2 separate regions of the Homo sapiens genome follow, and region 2 is linked to region 1. Evidence: fine-mapped expression QTL. Tissue or cell type: whole blood. Region 1 holds a variant in brackets; the other region holds the start of a gene. All regions are shown on one strand. Distances are from middle to middle.

Evidence for each region. PIP is the estimated chance that this variant, and not a neighbour inherited with it, causes the effect.
Region 2: it holds the start of RAP1B, and the variant in region 1 is fine-mapped to the expression of RAP1B in whole blood (TOPMed, PIP above 0.99).

Annotation. Positions count from the first base shown.
Region 1 is chr12:68,378,484-68,382,747 of GRCh38, forward strand. No RefSeq gene overlaps it. Among named protein-coding and RNA genes, the nearest start is that of MDM1, 48 kb to the left of the region's middle. The variant C/A (reference allele first, on the strand shown) is at 1,749.
Region 2 is chr12:68,608,775-68,612,890 of GRCh38, forward strand. It overlaps RAP1B (RAP1B, member of RAS oncogene family), which reads left to right and starts at 2,125. Exons shown (of 8, transcript NM_001010942.3): 1 at 2,125-2,269. RefSeq lists a silencer at 1,982-2,441.

The DNA.
Region 1 (4,264 bases):
GTCCTAATCCAAAGAATGCCATCAAGTAAGATGTGGAGCACACGATGGCCAAAGAACAGAAATACCTGCCTCTCCCTAATGATGTGAAGATCTCAAGTGATACTTAACATATTGGGGTGCTCAGAGTTCAGGGTCACCCTAGGCAGGTGGCAGATCTCATATGTACTTGCAGTTGTCTCAGTTTTGTTACATTTCATCCCTACTCCCACCATTCCCACAGTCTGTATGACTGCATATATATAATTTCCCTCAGGTGCTAGATGGGGGCTTGGTACCAAGTAAATTATGACATGGGACCCCAAGGAATCTCTGACACAGGAGAGACACACAATGACAACTTATTTTTCACAGGTTACAAAAATAAAAATATCAGGTGTCATGAATACAAGGCATTGTCTCATGAATTAATAATTTAGTTTCCTAAAAAAGATGGATAGGCGAAAGAAGGACAGGATGGGAAATTAGTGCTTGTTTTAATCTGCTTTGGAGCTGCCAAGGAAAACCAGTTGTCTTCTCCGTTTTTCTGTGCTTCCTGGAAATCATGCTGGAAGCAACCAGATTTGAGGCGCAGCATGAAACATCTGTCCTGTTTTGGCTTCTCATTGAGATGTTCATTCAGCTTTTGCATACAGCACCTTGCTGCCTTGAGACAAAATTTTAAAAACAAAAAAGCATTGCCAGGCTTTTTAAGCTATTGTGCAGGGTTGCTATTAGGAACTCACTGCACTTAGACTCTCCAGCCCACCCAGGAATATAGGTCTGACCCTTAAGGATAGTAAATAAGGGAGTGAAATCCAAGAAAGGCTGACACTCCCTGTGCAGTTATTTTTCAACCCAGAGGCTGCTTCTGCATATGATATCGCTTATGTAACTTTTCTTTGCAAGGACTCCTCTGGTGCCCCAATCTAGCCTCCACACCCATCCCTCCCCATATCATCAGCACAATGACATTTTTGCTGCTCCACCCAGCTGCGAATTTGCCAACAGTTTAAGGATGTGGACATTGAGTAAACAAAGACACAAAATTGAAGTTGGCTTTTGTGCAACTAGCTTTTAGGAGTTGCAGTTCTGTTCTTTCAGGTTTAAAGTTTCAGTGCAGTAGAATAAGACTGCCCAAACAATATTGCAAAGCTGCTTAGGAATTTCCATCACTAAAAATAGTATTATGTTACTTTGGGATAAAAGATTTTTAATTTATAGTGTAGCTCCCATGTAAGGATATGTATATTAACCTAGAACAACCTTGCTAGTTTCCATACGCCAGACTTAAAAATAAATTTATGATTAAAACCTTTTTAAGAATTCCAACAATACTGAGTGACCATCAATTCTTTAGAAAATGGGAACTAATTAATGGAAATTTTCTTCAAAGAATCTGACCTATTAAACATGATATTAAATATTCATCTATTTTAAAAGCTGCAAATGTCAATGAAAAAAATAAAGCTGTCAAATGCTAGGAGCATTTCATTAAGAAAGCAGCTTCAAACATTGATGAGAGTTTTATAAAGTTAGGAACTCTCAAGCTTTACCTCCTAGTGAAGAAGTTACTAATATTGTCTTTATTATAATCAAAATGCCAAAAGAGCAGGAAAACAGCAGTATGGGGCCCTGAATTGAAGTCCCTCTTTTTCCATGTTTCTACTAGCCCAGCCCTTTTGTAAATAAAACCTTTATACAACTAAAGCAGCACTGACTTCAATGGGAAGTTATGATATCAGTGCTACAGTGAAATGGATTGCTACAAA[C/A]AGAATAAGAGAGGAATAGATTGGATAATCAACACATATAGCAACTCAAAAGGATCGTTTTAGTGATTTCTTTTAATCTTCTCTACTACTAAGTATTTCACATAAGGATGCTTTTGGCTGCAAGTAACAGAATATCCAACTAACAGTGGCATTAAAAAAAGGGGTTCTGGTTTTCTATTGCTATAATATATAACAAACCAAAATTTAGTGGCTTAAAATAACATTTATTTTGTTCCTAGTCTGCAATTTGGGAAGGGCTTGGTGGGTGGCAGCTTGTCTGCTCCACTTGGCACCAGCTAGGGCACTTGAAGACTGGGGCCAGAGTCATCTGAAGGCTGCTTCACTCTCATGTTTGACAGTTCTTGCTGAGAAGACTCAGAGAGCTAGAGGCTGGTACAGCTGGGGCTCCTCAGGCATCTCGATTTCTGTGTGTTCTCCCACATGAGTTCTTCAGCATGGCAGCTTCAATGTAGACTGACTTCTAACATGTCAGCTCAAAGCTCCCAAGGCACATGTCAGAGAGAAGAAAAAGGCAGAAACCGCATCACTTGTGAACCTAGCATGGAGAGTCATGCAGTGTCACATCTACTGAATTCTACTAGTTAGAATCAAGTGGGTAAGGCTGGCCTATATTCAAGGGAGGGTGAATTAGACTTTGCTGGGAGGAGTGTCAAAGAATTTGTGGCCTTGTATTAAACCTACCACAAAGGGATTTATTTTTCATGTATGATGTCTAAAGGGAAGCAGTACTGTATAATATGGGGCTCCATGATCTAATAAAAACCAAGGGTTCATCTGTTCATCTATAATTCTGCTCTACCATTTTTAGATTGGCATATTGTCTCAAAGTTGCAAGCTGACTGCTATAGATCCAGACATTGTAGCCATGTTCAAGACCAAGAGGGGTGGAAAGAATAGTGCCTGCAGTTCTGGCCTCTTTTATTAGGAAATCAAAAGCCGTTCCCAAAACCCACCTCAGCAGAATTCTGCTTATGCCACATTGGCCAGAACTGTTACAAGGCCACCCCTTGCTTCAAGGGAGGTTAGAGCAGTGAATATTCAGCTTCTCCTTTCTCTACTGTAGAGGTCAGCGAGGATGAAGAGAGCCAGAAATGGGCATTGGGTCAGTCAAGCCATGCTTCTGACCTGCAAAGCCTCCATATCAGACCCAAAAATTCACAAGTAAGTAAGTAAGAGCTTCAAAGAACTTCTCTCCCTCAGCCAAGGTTAACTATAAAATGACCCAAATATGCTTAACAGACCAAAAAAAAAATTGGCTAATGAATGGAACTATTTACAACTGTATTTTTGCAAATAGAATCAAAAGCTAGATATTGAATTAAATGAATTGTTTCTACAGTTTAAACAGGAAGCAGAATGGGTTTCCCACAGAGCCATTTGCCGGCAAGATAGGAGGGACAAGGAAGAGGAGAGACCACTGACTTGTGATAAAATGTGAAAGCTGCCCTGCAGATTACCTTGGCTTCAGAGGCCTGGGGCCTAAAAATAATTTGGGGGCAGGGCAAAGAGGAACTCTTCACTTGTAAACCTAACCCAAATTCTATATCTTATTTTATAGAACATTCCTTCTTTTAACCTTGTTACTCACTAGTGAATGGAAACAGGAAAAACATTGTGAGTTGATGGATTTTATCTAACCCATCTGCAACGATTATTCAAATGTAAGCTTTAAAGTTTTATAACATTTAGCTAAAGAAGAATCAAAACTCTTTTCATTGCCCCGTGTAAGCACAAACACTCTCCTCGCCCTGCCAATTTGCCAGTCTACTGTCTCATGCTATGGTCTCATACAAGGATAAAAAAAATCACACCACAGCAGATATTTTTATAGACCCTTCATTCATACAAGCCTTGGCATATGACCGCAACAATAGCTAAAACTGAAAAATGAGACAACTGGATTTACTGACTGATAGTGTCTAGAACTCTCTCCCAGGTAATTTAATAGATGTACGTGAAAATGTGTGCTTTAAGGAGGACGCTGAATGTGAAGAAAGAATGCAACCACAGTGAGAGCTCCAGTACAATCCCAGGCTACAACTTCCAATGTCTGGTTCATCCTCAGAGAAAAAGGAATGAGGAAAGGAAATATTTTCCTTTAAATTGAAAGAACTCTGACATAAGGAAATTAAATAATTGATCCAAAGTGATGTTGCTCCTATTAAACAGAAAAAAAAGCACCAAGGCCTTTGCAAGCACTCCCATTAACAGTTTAATTTAGAATAGAAAGTAATGCAGGTCTTTATTCTAAACAATGGCCAACTTTACCTAACACGAAATAGACTCTTCTTAAACAAAACTCATAAAACATATACTATGGGAGTTACCAACCATTTTCTGAATTATTTATAAGCTAATGCTCTGCTTTCAATGTTTCTATCAGCTGCAAAATTTAATTAAGAAGCAAAGAATGGGCTTATAGAGATCATGACCCTACGTATTTCTTACTCATATTTCAAATTATAATCATGTCATGATGAAGTTTGATCCTCGTG
Region 2 (4,116 bases), 230 kb after region 1:
CTCAAAGTTTCAGACTTTCAGTTATCAAATTTTTATGCAATAACTGAAAAGTTAGTAAAGTCAAATTTATTTGTAATTCACTCATTCATTGAGAAGTTACAGTAATTCCAACGGACTGCTCTGAAATTTGCCTTTGAAACTTTTATTTAAAAAGGTTTTCTAAAGAATGGATGTTAAGTGTTCTCATAAAAAAATGCTAACTCAAGGCCAGGCGCGGTGGCTCACGCATGTAATCCCAGCACTTCGGGAGGCCCAGGCGGGCGGATCACCTGAGGTCGGGAGTTCCAGACCAGCCTGACCAACATGGAGAAACCCCGTCTCTACTAAAAATACAAAATTAGCCGGGCGTGGTGGCGCATGCCTGTAATCCCAGCTAGTCGGGAGGCTGAGGCAGGAGAATCGCTTGAACCCGAGGGTGGGAGGTGGGGGCGGAGGTTGCAGTGAGCCGAGATCACGCCATTGCCTTCCAGCCTGGGCAACAAGAGCGAAACTCTGTCTCAAAAAAGAAAAAAAAAATGCTAACTCAGCCGGCGCGGTGAGTCACGCCTGTAATCCCAGCACTTTGGGGGGCCCAGGCGAGCGCATCACCTGAGGTCAGGAATTCGAGACCAGCCTGGCCAACATGGCGAAATCCCCTTTCTACTAAAAATTAGCTGGGCGTGGTGGCACGCGCCCGTCATCCCAGCTACTCGGGAGGCTGAGACAGGAGAATCTCTTGAACCTGAGAAGCAGAAATTCCAGTGAGCCGAGATCATGCCACTGCACTCTAGCCTGGGTGACAGAGCAAGACTCTCAAAAAAAAAGGTAACTCTGTGAGGTAATGTAACAATGTATACATTACTTCAAACGATCATGTTGTATACACAATAAATGCAGACAATAAACAATTTTTAAAAAGATATTTTTCTAAGGAAATAGAAATTATCGAAATAGGTAATCTACTCAATTAACCTAAATTGTAAAACATTATAAAACACAGAGAACTGTTATAATTCATTCTCATCTATTCATTTAACTTAGGTTAGCTTAGTTTTCAATCACTACATATTCTTAAACGGAGTGAAATTAGTCACATTCCATTTATCTTCCAAATTTATCAACGTTTATTAAGATTTATTTCAAGAATAATTTGTACAGGGCCTAATTAAATTATGAACCAAGAAAGTTAGTCTTAAATGACCCCTCAATCCCTTTTCCCTGCACTTTGCTCTCTTAATCTCCTCGCCCATCAAAACTGCTTCAAGAAAAAGTTCTGATAAATTTCTTGTACTAAGGGTAAGTAAGAATGGTAAATTCCCGTGTTAAGTTCCCGCCCTTTTTGGAACGAGGCATTTTGGAACAGAAAGTGTTTTCTGGTGCCCTGAAGTCACACGATAAACCTACTTGCCTATGGGTAATCCTGTGAAGTGAATAAAGCGTCCAGGACATGCATTTAAATACGCAATTTATTTTAGTTATATAAATGGCGTTGGTTTAGGTGCAGGGTACAAACTTATTTAGAAATCATCGATTTGTTAACTGCGTTTGGCATGGGAATTTGGAAAGAGTTCGCCCGGGTTAAGACACCAATGGATAAAACACTTGTCAATCCAGGAGAAAAGGCATCTCAAGAATGGAAAGACTTGCTGGCCCAGGCTCCCTCGGGGAGCTCTAGGTGTAGAAAATGCGCGCTCTCCGTTACTTCTCGGTTACTTTGCCCAGCACAAAGGACGACGCGAATACCAACAGACTGGACGAGTCGGTGACTACAGTTTGCATTAAGAGGCGGCGCCTTTTGGGTTTCGGAGGGTTCCACTGGAACCCACGAGGGTCAGGAACACCGACGCGCGGATTCCGCCCACCAGACAGCCTGGGGAAGCGAGCCTGAAGGCGCGGCGCAGCTAGAGAGAAGAACCTCGGCAGACATGCCGCCCAGAGGCAGCTAAGGGGCCCGTGGGCAGGGCCTGCGCTCCGGCTGCGATGCAGGCCGGCTAGAGGCCGGCGCCGAGGACCCGGCGCGCGGCGGCCCCGCCCCCTCGGCTCCCCTCGCCCCGCCCCCTAGGCCCGCCCCTTCCCGGGCCGCGCACCCGCGCGCCCCGCCCGCGGGCGGAAGCTGGAGCGAGGCTGAACGCCTGACGTCAAGGCGACATCGCCAAACCTCGCCCAGATTCAGGCGTGTAAACCAGCCGGAGCGGCGCGGCAGCGGCAGGACCGCCGTGGCGCCTAGAGTAGCGACCCGGGGGGAGCGCGGGGCGACGCTGGCTGCAGGGACCCGGTGACAGCGTGAGAGGTTCGCAGAGTGAGTGCGTGGCCGCTGAGGGAAGCCGCGGCGGCGGCCGCGCGGGGCCGGGCGCCGGCTGAGGGGAGCGGGTGGGGTGCGGCGAGGCGCGGGCCGGGCGCGGCGGTCAGGGGCCCCGGCGGCGGCAGCCCCTCGGCGCGCGGCAGGTGGCGCGAGGGCCAGGCGCCGGGCCCGCGAGCGCGCTGCCTTGCGGGCCGGCGAGGAGGAGCAGCCGCCGCCGCCGCGGGAGAACAGCGCGCTTTGCGGAAGGGGTCAAATGTCTGAAATATGGCGGAGGAAGTGAGAGCCCGAGGACCCCCCCACCCGCCCGCTCTCTTCAGCCCGCGTCCGCCGCAGCTTCTCCCGCCGCCCTCCTTTCCCCGCCGGCTCCCCCGAAGACTCGCTCCCCGCCCCGAGCCCCCTCGCTTGTCGCCTGGGTTCCCTCCGTGGTATGGGTGGAAGTTAGAACGGAAACCAGAAAGTTGTCCTTTGCGAAGACCTAGCTTCTCCCAGCCCCGAGCTAGGGCGAGGAGCCTTCGGGGGAAACCACTCCCAGGCGCCCCGCGGGCTTGAGCCTGACAGCGAAAAAGTTTGCCTGAAACGGGGCTTGCTTGCTCCATTTGTTGCGGGAAGTGGCAGGAGGAAGGCAGCGGAGAGAGCCCCACTTAGTCTGGCAGCAGCCACCGTGTAGAGAAAAACTGTTAAAGGGGCCTTTCCCTTCGTCAGCAAGAGGAAATCTCTTTCTCTTAGAGGGAGAGAAAATCCAGGAAGTTTGTCCTCTTCTCTTTTTCGCCATCTCGAGGTGTCTAATCCTAAAACTATCAGCGCCATGAATTTTATTTAAAACTACGCCCAGTGAACCGGGCTCTCCGGATTTTTCTTCTGAAAAACACTGATGTCTTTTGGAGAAAAGATCATTTTTGCAAGTTAAAGCAGATGGTTTCCTTCCCCTTCGCTTTCCCCCCTCTCCCACTCTCTTTAATAGTTTAGAAAAACATTTTGGCCCTGTAACTTCTGATTGGTATGAATAGAAGCAGTTCTGTGTTGCAGTAAGGGGAAATCACATTTTTACGGGGTAGAAAGTTGACACTAAATGAAGATTGTGATTTTAGTATTTTAAAATTAATTCCGTCTAATTGGATTTTGGTTTTGCAGGCAGCATCTCATATATGTCGAGTACTTAACAATTTAAAGCTCTGACTTGTAAATTTATTTTTCAGCTCTCTTTTTTCGTAATTAGAATACTGTTTGGACTTGCTCAACAAGACCTTATCTTAACAAAAAGTAACTTATAGAAAAGGGAGACATTCATTTAACTTCAAGCCCATATTATTCTTAAAAGCTGACTCTTGAAATAGTATTTATTGAGTCATAGTGGAGTCATGGGACTTTTTAAGGGCCGGAAGGGACTATTTAGATCATCCAGTCCCACCCTGTCATTTTATGGAGGAGGAAACTGAGGCCTAGATAAGATAACCAGTTAGTGGGTCCACTGACCTTTAGGACAGTAGTCTATCCGTAAGAGACAACATGGAGAAAGAAATACAACGTTTTTATAGTGAATTATCATCTTACAAAGAATATTCTTCCCATATCGCACTTTTAAAAAGTGGGTACCTTAGTCAAATAGGAGAAAAAACCACTTGAGTAGTTTCATCCTCAGGTTTTAGGTGAGGAAACTGATACTCAGATTAAATAACTTTAAGCACACAGAGCCTGAATGATAGTCTTATTTGAGCTCATCTGTGCTTTTAATGTGTACTACGTTAGGTGTTTTCACTTGCATTTCCTTTAGTCTTATTTGAGCTCATCTGTGCTTTTAATGTGTACTACGTTAGGTGTTTTCACTTGCATTTCCT